Homo sapiens: one gene and its partners. The protein of the gene in region 2 purifies or fractionates together with the protein of the main gene of each other region. This does not show direct contact. Each region holds a gene or a part of one and is shown on either strand. Other genes may lie near its edges. The genes, in order: PBX3, TSHZ1 and MEIS2.

Region 1 (3,648 bases), on a different chromosome or scaffold from region 2:
AGATAGAAAATTATTTTACCTTTTTTATGTTTGGGGAGAAAAGTAGCAACACGTCTGTCTTAATCTTTCTTCTTCATCTATAGTTTGGGTTACACTTCTCAAACTGTGGCTGACTTGATTTTTAAATGAAGAAAGCACAGAAAATAAAGTAGGTATTTTTACTAATTAGCTTTGTGACTTCTGACCACTATCCTGCATGTTACTTTAAAATAACAGACACAAAAGAAAAGCTATGAAAAATTATAAGAATAACAGAAAACATTAATATTAAAATTGTCGCTTATTTCAAAGCAGTCAAGAATTCAGGGCCTGCTGAAAATATCTCATCTGGCCTTGTTTTACATGGCACTCTGCTAAAACATTTTTCTCTGAGCTAAGACTGTGGTGTGGTAGTTGAATGAATCAAAAAACAAGTCCATCAGAAAACAAAATTACAGCGACGTCGTAGGCCTAAGCTTATGAATAATTTGGGGCCTAAATTTATGGTATGCTCATTAGGAGAAAAAAAAATCAAACAACTCAAGTTTCCATAATAGCTTTTTGTTTCTCAGCAGGTCTGAATAATGTACTCTTTACTAAGTAAAAGTGATGTGATGACAACTTTTATCATTATTATGGATATTATCTATCTTCCCTGATTATGGAAATATTGTAGGGCTAGATCTTAGTTACGTCTAATTCAGGACCACGTGTAGAACATATTTGAAATAGCTATGGTCTGAAGCCATACTCTTCAGTGCTGGATGAACAGAGGTTAGTCATGGTCCAGTGGGCTTGGTCCTTGAAATGAGGGAGCCACAAAGCTTAGTTAGTGCACTGTGTTGTTTGCACCTCATTCACTCAGGTCAAGCCTTCATTGTGTTACAGTGTTCTTCTGTTAGAAAGGCTCCTACTGTACAATCTAGCCAATGCAGATTTCTAATCTGCTTATTTATAATTCAAAAGCTTGCCTATATATTAATGAACCCTTAATGAGCTGTTGAAAATGCCTGAATTACAGTCAGATTATTAAACTCAAACAGCCCCGTAATCATACCATTTGAGTGGGCTTTAGGTACTTTTCACATCTGCAGCTTAGAATTGTGAAGGGTATGCGTTTATTCGGAGAAAGCTTTGTAATAATTTTGACCCGTAATTTATTTATTGCCCTCCAAATGCAGTCGTCTATGCAGATGCTCTCTCCCATTATCTGTGGGGCAGGTGCACAGCATGTTGAAAGACAGCTAATTAGGATTTGCTGAAAGATATGCAAAAACTGTAGGCTTATAACAAAGCCAAGTTCATTGTTAAACAATGTTTTACTGTGTTTGTATGATTTGTCTAAATCTTAGGGATACGGAAATGAATGTTGTGATTATAAGTAGATTGCAAATAGGGTTTATTTTTTAAACTTTATAATGTTGTGATGACCAAAGAACCTAGATGTAAACCTTTATAAACCTCTGTATGTTTCATTATACATACATTTTGGATTAAAAACAAGTACAATCAAATTTTAAATGATTGTTTTACCATGTTTCAATTTGAAGATATCAAGATATTTTGATAACCACACAGTCTGATTCATTCTGGCCCTTGCAAATTTAGACCCATTAAAATGTTTATAGGTGCCCAGAGGAGTAGGTATTATGACTAAAAGCCAGTGTAACTCTAGAAAGTTAGTAAACTAAGTAATAGTGAGTGGCTAGGTAGGTAGGATGAGGAATAAAATGGTAACTAAATGTTTTTAAGTAAGAAAATAAATAGAAATATTCAAATTGAAAGTAATTTTGGAAACCAGGTATTAGTATTTAAAGATCCCATAATCATTACTTTGCTTAATAAAGAAAAGAAACCGATTCACTTTTCAGACTAGTTATGAAAATTCCTTTATTATTGATAGTCTTCTTCTTGTTGCCTATTTGCAAAGTACTTTAGTACTTTTCATCTAAAGAACTATGAGTTTTCCGTCAGGAAATGATTTTTCTGATGAAATTTGATGCACATAATTTATAAAGTAAATACAAAGGATTGCATTAAAACATATTTTCCTGTTCTTGAGGCAAGCACTTAGTGTTGATTTACTGATAATTTTAGAAATAAGATATTTTTTCATTATAAGAGTAAAACGTTATAGTAATTGATACTGTATACTTATAATTGTTTTTATTTGTGTCCACGGCTTTTGAGCTTATGGATTGCTTCTTATTGGTACAATAATGATGGTTTATATACGTATTTATATACATATGTATAAAAGTATCATAGATGGCTAATTAGTTTTGTGCCTTTTGCATTTGTTCCTAATGAATTTCCTTCTGTCTCTCTTATGGTGTACTTCCTTGTATGTTTGTCATTGAGCTTCTTCTCTTGTTTGCCGTACATGTGCAGGGAAGTGTAATCATTTTGGGTATGGAAGTTAATCTGCTATTAAAGTACTTCACCACATGTCCATAGGGAAAAGATTAATGTGTTTAACTACAAGGGGAAAACTAGAAACCCGGAGGAAACTTGAAGGTAGATTAAAAAAACACATTTCAGGAGAGGCACCAGTGTCTATGTAAATACAAAAATCAACAAACACACAAAACTGTGGGCAAAAATTCAGTTGAAAATGGAGAAACTTGAGAAGTCCTCAAACAAGAATAAAAAATTAAACAATTCAAAGTGCAGCATAAGAGATTGCTCAGTAAGCTCTCATTGCATGCCAAATGCACAAAAAACTTGCTATGTGAACTACAAGCATGTACAGGTCGTGAGATTTTTAACATTTAACACAGTGAATTAAAAGAGAGGAAAATTAAAGATTTAAATTAAAAATGCAAACTTAACCAATACATGGCAGTTCTAGAACAATATTAGGCAGTCCCTTTTAGTTATAGAAGAAACAGCAAATACGTTTGCCTATTTTTAATTATCAGCAGTGTGTTGGTACGCATTTTATGAGTTATCTTTTTGCTCTCCTAAATGAATATATTGTCTTAGTATATTATAGTTTTCAAACCTTATTTGCCTCTGAATAGACAACAGATAAAATTTTAAATTATGGTGAGTTAGTTTTATTATCCAGTTGAAATTATTCTGAAGTATAATTTTAAATGAAAGTGACAGCTTTAAAGTGTTTTGGGGAAGAAATTAAAGTTTTGCATTTGTGTTAAGGCAACCAAGAGCTCTGTCATGCCATGGATGTAATTCAGGGCATCTAGGAATGAAATCTGTTCTTAAAAGAATTGACGGTAGCTTTAGGTTAGCATATAAAATCAGAGTTGGTGATCAGTTGAGTACTTGGCAGCTTATAGATGTTATGTCATGTAAGTTACACTAGACACAAAGTGTGTACCACTGTGGATAAACAACAACAGGCACAGACTCAAAAGAGAATCCAAATACAAACAAGCAAGGTGCCAACTTCCTTTTCCCCTCTTCCCCAAGAAGCCTTGTAACTAGTGTAGGGAACCTGCTTTGAAGCAGATTTACAGAGGTTAATTGGGCTGGGATGTTTTAGATTATGTTACACATTAATGAAAATGCTGATTTTGAGCTGTCATGACTCCAATGCTTTTTATACCATGATAATTATTTTAAAACTTTGTCTTCTGTGTTGTTGAAAACATTTTGGCAGAAAGCCTGTGTGACCTGATTAAACCTATGAATTGTCAGCTATGATCT
Region 2 (4,231 bases):
AGGGTGGCGGGGGGGACGGCGGGCAAGGGGGGACGGGGGACTCGCGCGTCCCGCGGTCGTCTGCGGCCCCGAGCCGGCGGCAGCCCCGGGCGTCCCCGGAGCTGCGCGGCGGCCGGCGCAGGCGCCTCCCCTTCCCGTGCGAAGCGTTCACTTCCTTGCAAGGTGGTACGAATCAACCCCGAGCGCGGCCCGGGCGGCGGGGCACGACCGGGGACCCCGGGCAGGGCGGGGAGCCCCTGCCGCCGCTGCCGCACGCGCACCCGTACCGACCGCGGGGCGGGGAAATGTCCAGTGCCTCCCGCTCCCCAGGCTGGTGGCTTCCTGTCCCCGGAACCCCTTGCGCGTGCTTTCTGTCCACGGTCTGTCCCATGCAAGTTGCAGGAACTAAGCCATTTTATTTATTTTGGCCTAGATTTCATGTTTTTCCATGAATGTTTTAAGTAGATCTACAAGACTGTTACAGGTTTCCCATTGGGAGAGAACACACATATAGAAAACCAGAAGGCCAAATTCCCAGAGCACAGACACATTTTAAAGTTCTACGTGGGGATGCCGAGGGACTTAACTGAATTGGAGACGTTGCACTGCTGTGTGAGGACCTCATTTTCGAACCCAGCTAGAAAGATCTGTCGTTCCATCGTGTCCGTTTTCTCCCTACTGGCGTGCATGGACCAAATGTCAATTCACTTTTTATAGAGGGGCCAAATTAAATATTTCCACACTTTTCTGTGATGAACTAAGTCCATCTTTACATTTTTATTTAAATTGTAAAATTTAATTTTAAAAATATCTTGCTTTTCAGTTACCCACGAATTACCAAAATATAAAAGCTACTCTGGGCTCCTCCCCAGCCAAATCTAACCCCCCAACCTGAGATTGCAAAAGCGACACAGATATTTTTCCCCCCAAATGTAGGACATGCTTCACCCAAGGGTAGTTTGGATGCACGTGGTTGCGTGTGTATGAATGTGCAAGTGTGTGTATGTGTATGTGTGTGTGTTGGGGGGGAACTAACAGGTTTAAAAATCTGCAGGAACTAATGTCTACTTAACTTAGAGCATATGGGTTTTACCCGGTATCAGCCAGTGGGTTACAATAACAACACTGAATGAATTCCTCCAATGTACAATCTTTTATGTTATGCTGTATTAAGATTTCTTTTTTTTGTCATATTGTTTAGCTCCGAAAAAAAGAAAACAAAGCAATTAAAAAGATTGACAGGTATGGTTTGTGAGAGACCTATTTGTAATTGTCAGGGTGACGTTGGCGAGAGGAGGAGGAGTAAAAACTGAAGCAGGAAAAGCAGCTCGATGTGTCTGTCTATCAGTTGAGACTGTCTGAAAGCTCTGCGATCCGAATGTGTGTTATATTTCACTGAAAAGAGGAGAGAGCGAGAGTGCATCTCCCTCTCTCCCAGGAGTTTGAGGGGGGGGGGGACAGTCCACGCTCATCTCGCCCACCCAGTGAATGTCTGCTCTTCACCCCCTTTGCACACACTCTCCGGGTTGTTGTTGCCTTTTTTTTTTCTTGGAGGGGGGGGTGCTTTTTGTGTATTTTTCAAATTTTTTTCTGTTGGAAGATCAAGACCGGCCAAAAATCCATGATCAAAATGTGTTTGCATTAGATTTCGCATTGGAAGAAGCGGCGATCCTGGCGGCCAAGCCCCCCGGGTGGAAGCGCGGGGCACCAAGTGGCGCTCCGGCGGGGTGACACTGTTTGATCTGTGACTGTTTGGAAGGTGGAGCAGCGCCTGACATCTCCCCCCGGCGCATGTATGTACGGGGGCTTCACTCCTCTGTCTTGTTTGCTTTCTTCCTCTTAGACTAAGTGCGGGGAGGAAAAGGACAGCCTGCATCGGCCTCGCTGGCGCACAATGAGAAAGCTGCGACCCGCGCACTAAAAACACTCGCCGCGACCCCCAAACAGCGAGGAGAGAGGGGGAGAGAAAGTTGCGCTCGGCGACTCTCGGCTCGCGGAAGAAGGCGCAGGGGAGCGCCCGGAGCGGCGCGCCGGGAGGAGCGCCCGCCCAGCAGCAGCGCGGCGGCGGGGAGGCGGCAGCATGGAGCGCGGGCCGCGGGCCGGCCCGCCGAGCGCCCGCTGCTGCGCCCGCGGCCCGCGCCGGGGATGACTCCGGGCTCGGCGCCCAGGCCCCGCGCGCTCCGCCCGCAGCCCGGCGCCGGGAAGCGGGCCGCGCGGCCGCCGCCGCCGCCTCCTGAGCGGCCCCGGGCGCGGCGGTCCATGCGAGCGGCTCCCCGCGGTCCGCGGCGCGCCCGGAGCCCGGAGCCCGCGGGGACGAGGCCAAAGTTGGGCGCGCCGCGGAGTTGCGCCCGCGCCCGGGGCCCCGCGTCCCCGCGCCCCGCGAACTCCGGCGGCGGCTGAGGCGACGGCTGCGGCGGCCGAGCAGCATGCCGAGGAGGAAGCAGCAGGCCCCCCGGCGCTCGGCAGGTAACGGGCGCGCGGCCCGCGCCGCGGGGAGTGGGCGCCGGGAGGAGCAGGAGGAGGGGGCTTCGCGGGCCGAGGTGCGGGACGTGGGCCGCGGGCCGCCCCAAGCTGGGGAGGGGAGGCCCAGCCTGCGCTGGCCACAGTCGTCTGGAGGCTGCGGTCGCCGTCCTCCCCCACACCCCCAACCTGGGCCGGCGCGTGGAGCAGAGAAAGTTCGCGGTGCTTCTCTGCGCTGCGGGAAGCCCGGATGGCCGGGGGAGGCCGGGGGCCGCGGGACGGCGGGTGCTTCTGGCTACCTCAGGAGGGGGCGTGCGCTGAGGGGAAGTAGTTGCTCCTTGGCTGCCGGAGCGCACTGGAAAAGTCCTCCAAAGGCGGGGAGGCTGAACCTGACACTTGAAAACAAGGTCACCAGGCTGGGACGCAAAGAATGTGTTCAGAAGATTTCTCTGGAAAACAGCAGCCTTTAATGTCCTGTGCAAGAGGCCCCCCGCCCCCACTTTTTTTTTATTACCTCTAAAGATGTCTTTTGATCAGGCCAGCACAAGGCAGTGATAGTGCAGACTCTGATTGAACAGAAAAGTTATTTTTCTCTGGAGGAGGAACTGGCAGGAGCTGGTTTTCCTTGTTTTCTGTTTTATTAGAGGATTGCCATCCTTGATTTGATGTGTGATTGATCGCCTGTCATCTGGCAGCCTTTGATCTATTCATTCCTGATAAACATCAATAAATCACTCACCATGGAAACACACATGCTCCTGACAGCTCCGCCACTATCAGGGCAACTTTTCTCTCTCGCTCCCCCTTTTGCTGCTCCATTTTAATTTTGTCTCAGAAGTTTTACAGCTGCAGCATCCCTTAACTCAGCTCACCTACTAATCCATTGCTAAACCTGGGGTGGGTCAGCTGCCGTGCGTTTTTGAGCACAGGTTTGAAAATAGCCCAGTGATTCTGCTGCCTGCTCAAGTCTTGTCTCAGTTTTGGACATTGCGTTTGTGGGGCTGAGAATGCAACCCATATGCCAGTGAGTTATCGCTAAATAATAGAGTAAATCAACTCTCTCCAAGCTCTTAGGGTAAAAATATTAGAAGGAGTGTTTTATGTTTAAACATGAGCGACTCTTTAGCTGTTGCAGTACAGAATAGAATCTGAATAAGTTTGAGTATCACATTCAGTAATGTGCACGTGTTCAAGTCTTTATACGTGCTTTTTCTGGGGAAGCACTTAAAGCAGAGATTACTGCTACTAAAAAAATTTGGGAATAGTATCTACGTTTATGAATGGTTCAGTAAAATAACCTCATCATTTCCATTAGATCACTGATAGAGATGCTCTCAAAGAGTTGAAGGAGATTACCTTATGCTGAGTATTCACAACATAAAAGGAACAGAATGGAGAATATTTATTTTGGAATAACTTTGAGTAATGGAGGAAGAAACCTTTCAAAGAGAGTATCTATGCCACTGGTAGCCCCCAAATAATATAGCTCAGTGTCTCAAGATATTCGCCACTTGCTCATGCTAGAAACAAGAGGTCTTTACATTTTCACAGTTAGAGGGATTTTTTTTTAAATGACAGAATGTACAATAAAAAGTTGTGTTCAGAAAACTACTCCTGTACTCTTAAGAACTTTTGCAGTTAAAATTGCGGTGAATATTTCCAAGGACAAACAAAATGCTGAGGGAATGAGGTACTGCAACTTTAAATACCACATTTTTTTTTTTTTTAAATAAAAGGTTTGAAAGTTGACAAGGGCATGATGGTGCATGGTAATCCATCCTGGCAGCTCTTA
Region 3 (3,648 bases), on a different chromosome or scaffold from region 2:
TTTTTTTCTTCTGTTTCCTACTGAGGGTCTGGGAGTCACTAACAGCAGCTTGAGCTGGGATCAGGGCTGCTTCTGTCGGCCAGGAAGTCCTAATCACCCACTTCTTAATTCTCTGTAAATAAAGGGGGCAGACCTCGAAGTGCAGCGAGGTGGAAGGGACTCTTGCTTGCTTGGAGCCGCTCTTAGGGGGAGTAAGGAAGATGGCTGGAAATTATTTTATATTCTGAGAGCACTTGGCGAGGGGTGAGATGCACGATCCTAACGTGTACCACACGAGCTCTTCCGGCTGAGGGTAGGTGGGCAAAGCGACGGGATGCCGAGGGGAGGGGACAGTGGGTAAACAGCAACTGAGCCCCAAGCCAGAGGCCGCAAGCATCCCGAAGTGTGGCTAAGCCGCCCGGAGGAACACAAAGGGCATACGCGCACGCACACTTAAAGTTTTAAAACACGATTTATTTATTTTTGTCTGCTGCAACGCTGGGAGAAATGTGGTCTTTGGAAGGAAGCTCTCCAGTGTGTAACCTTCCTATTATTTTGGCCCCCACACTGTGGCTTTAGTAGAACAGGAGCAAACAAGTTTATAAGGCAAGGAGGTGGAGAGATTAAAAGAGCATTCTCTTGCATTTATGAAGTGTCACTCCGGTGTGTATGTAGGTGAAGCCTTTGGCCTCGTCTGAAATGCCCATTAAAATGCAGAGTTAAAACTATTTTTTTTTCAATTTCACACAGTGTTCCCTTCTTGGGAGGTCAGGGCTGGGTCTCAGGGGTTGGTTCCGCGGCCTCCGTAGTGTGGGGAGTGGATCAGAATCGACTCGGGCTCCAGACTGCCTGAGCGTCTCGGATGTTTCATTACGTTCCAACTGAGGCTGTTTTTATTTGTCGGGCTGCAGTGGCCGGGGTCTTCTCTGGCCAGATCTGAGGGACCTCTGAGCTGCGGGAGAGGGCCAGGCCCTTTTCCCTTTCTGTTTCTGGCTTAGGCTCGCCTGATGGAGGAAGGGTTGTAAAGTGTGGTGCGTGCCTGTTGTATTAAAGAAGGACTCCACACCCTCCAAACTTGTTGATTACAGTTCTTGCTCCTTCCCCTCTGCACCCCGTCTCTGTGTGTGTGTCTCTGCGTGGCGCTGCCCGTTAGGCACCCGTTGTTTCCTCTGTTAGCTCTGGTCTTTGAGAAGTGCGAGCTGGCGACCTGCACTCCCCGGGAACCTGGAGTGGCTGGCGGAGACGTCTGCTCCTCCGACTCCTTCAACGAGGACATCGCGGTCTTCGCCAAGCAGGTCCAGCCTTCTTGATCCACTCAACTTCGGGCAGTCCCTCACTACCCCTCCCCTTTCCTCGGAGCTTTACTTGAAAGGAGGAAAGGCCAGGGACACCCTATCTGTTCCTCTGGCCCAGTCCGCTCTCTACGCCTCCTCCCCATCCCTGAGCCTGGGGGCGAATTGGAAGTGGAGATAAATATGGGTGTTTGTTTTCCCCCCCAGCAGGAATACAGGGGTCGACCCTCGAATTAAAGTTGACCTGCTCCTAATCTGGGGCTTGGCCTTTTTCCCCCGCCTCCAGCTACTTGAACAAGAATTGGGGAGAGGGGCTGTGAGGGACCCGGGAGTGCCCGGGAGGCAAGGAAGCTGGGCGCCTCTCCGAGCGGTCCCAGGCAGCAGTGGAGAGCCACAGCCTCTTGGACTGCTGGATATGGAACTCGAGGCCCTGAGAACGACCCTGAGTTCCTGGCTACAGCTTAGTCGTACCAGGTCCCCCTTAATGGGGCCAGGACCAGAATGCCCTGATTCTTCTTCAGGGACTCCACTAATTTAAGGCACCAGTTTCTTTCTTGTATTTTGCCAAAGCCCCTTTCCTCTTCTCCGCCATTGCCCTCCACCGTACCCATTCTCACATTTCAGCTTTCTTATTTTAAATGGGGTGATCGTTCAAGTTGACTCTCTGTTTCTTACAGGTTCGCGCCGAAAAGCCACTTTTTTCCTCAAATCCAGAGCTGGACAATTTGGTAAGGCTCTCTGTTCCTTGTTTTTCCCCAGCCTTTGCCCTCTCCCATGCCCAGAAGCACCCACTTTCTGCTGGAGCTCTGGGGAGTTAGAACAGAACCCTCTTTTGGAGCTCTAGGGAGAGAGGGAGGAAGGGAGCAGCTTAGAGCCCCCGCACGGGAGCTGGCGAGCGAGGAGCAGGATGAACGCGGTGGGGAGCGAAGCCCAGGGAGGCCGAAACGGGAGACCGAGCGCCGAGAGCGCGAGCAGGGGATGTTTCCCAGGTCTCGGCCCCAGGAGTAAACTGCGAGAAGTGAGTTATTTCCTCTGTTTGCCGGGGCAGGCGGCCGAGCCCCGGGCGGCTAACCCGAAGGATGTAACCACTGGCACGGCTGAGGGCGGGCTGGGGGTGGGGGCTGGGGGGCGGTGAGGGGCAGGCCAGCGCAGGCCACTTTTAGGTGCGATTCTTTTGCTAATTTGCACGATTTCAATATTAAAAGTACTTAAATCCGCTTTCAAAGGCCCTGCCTCAGCATTCATCTTGAGTATTTCCTTCTTTAGTGAGGAAGGATTTCGCTGGGTATGCTGTTCTAAAAAGCTTTTTCTATCCTGAGAAGGGACCTTTTTTTTTTTTTTTTTTTTTTAAGGAAAAAAAAAAAAGTTGTCCTGAGGTCGAGGGAGGGGATGTTTAAAGAGGACTAAGAGGAGAAAAAAGGCCTGGCCCGAGGAAAGCAGTCTTACAAATAGCACAGTGAACATCAGGGGGAAAGATATTAATGCTTATGCTCAGGTTGAGTCAGATTCCTACCCCGTGGCCAATGAGGCAGAGATGATCAGTAATCACTTGATTTTTCTGACTATTTCTTGATGTTTAAGTTTTTCCTGGCCACCTGCCCGTTTCTTCTCCCCAGCCCAACTTTCTCACCACCATCCTCACCCCACTCCCAACCCCAAGACAGGACCTCAGAGTCACAGAGCTCTAACTCCATTCCCTGAACTTTTCTTTCAGATGATACAAGCAATACAAGTACTAAGGTTTCATCTTTTGGAGTTAGAAAAGGTAAGCAGGAAATAACGCTCCCCGTGTTGATTAAACCATTTCCCTCTCCTAGTTGAGTTGGGATGTTTTTAACAAACCTCTAGTGTGAGGGATTGAGCACCTGGAGATTTTGAGCATGTAACCATGTCCATCCTTCAACTCGCTTCTCAACACAGGGGCTCAGAGGGTGGGTGAATCAGGACAGCCTTGCCTTTAAAGTAGCCTCCTCCTCCCCAATATTCCCCTCAGGCATTCAGGATTATTTTGAAATGCAGCAAACCATTTATGTTACTGGACACTCAGCCTGCTTGCATCTTTATTAGCTCAGCTCACCCTCGGCCCTGGGTTTGCATTAGGTGCAGGCAGAGTGAATCATCCTTGCTGGGTGTCTTTACATTGCTCTGCAGCTCAATTACTTTCCCCTGGAAACATACGAAACCCCTAGCTTATAAAATCACAAACGTTAATGCTCTCCCCAGCTCCAATGTTGTAATGTTTTGATGTTATTATCAAATCAGATTTAATTCCCTGGACTCCCACTCTGAACCCAGTTATTTCCAGTCCTGTTTCTTTCTCTCTCTATTGTAACTTGTTGCTCAGAGAAGTCTCTGGAGAATAATATCTGCTGCAACA

What was found.
Region 1: the proteins of TSHZ1 (region 2) and PBX3 purify together in Homo sapiens (affinity purification with mass spectrometry; one large-scale study listed by BioGRID and IntAct). This does not show direct contact.
Region 3: the proteins of TSHZ1 (region 2) and MEIS2 purify together in Homo sapiens (affinity purification with mass spectrometry; one large-scale study listed by BioGRID and IntAct). This does not show direct contact.

Annotation. Positions count from the first base shown.
Region 1 is NC_000009.12:125,911,262-125,914,909, forward strand, and holds part of PBX3 (pre-B-cell leukemia transcription factor 3), read left to right. Parts: intron 1-3,648. UniProt on the Homo sapiens protein: Transcriptional activator that binds the sequence 5'-ATCAATCAA-3'.
Region 2 is NC_000018.10:75,209,472-75,213,702, forward strand, and holds the start of TSHZ1 (teashirt homolog 1), read left to right. Parts: upstream 1-1,325; 5' UTR 1,326-2,405; coding exon 2,406-2,445; intron 2,446-4,231. UniProt on the Homo sapiens protein: Probable transcriptional regulator involved in developmental processes. May act as a transcriptional repressor.
Region 3 is NC_000015.10:37,093,915-37,097,562, reverse strand, and holds part of MEIS2 (homeobox protein Meis2), read left to right. Parts: intron 1-1,132; coding exon 1,133-1,274; intron 1,275-1,948; coding exon 1,949-1,999; intron 2,000-2,985; coding exon 2,986-3,036; intron 3,037-3,648. UniProt on the Homo sapiens protein: Involved in transcriptional regulation. Binds to HOX or PBX proteins to form dimers, or to a DNA-bound dimer of PBX and HOX proteins and thought to have a role in stabilization of the homeoprotein-DNA complex.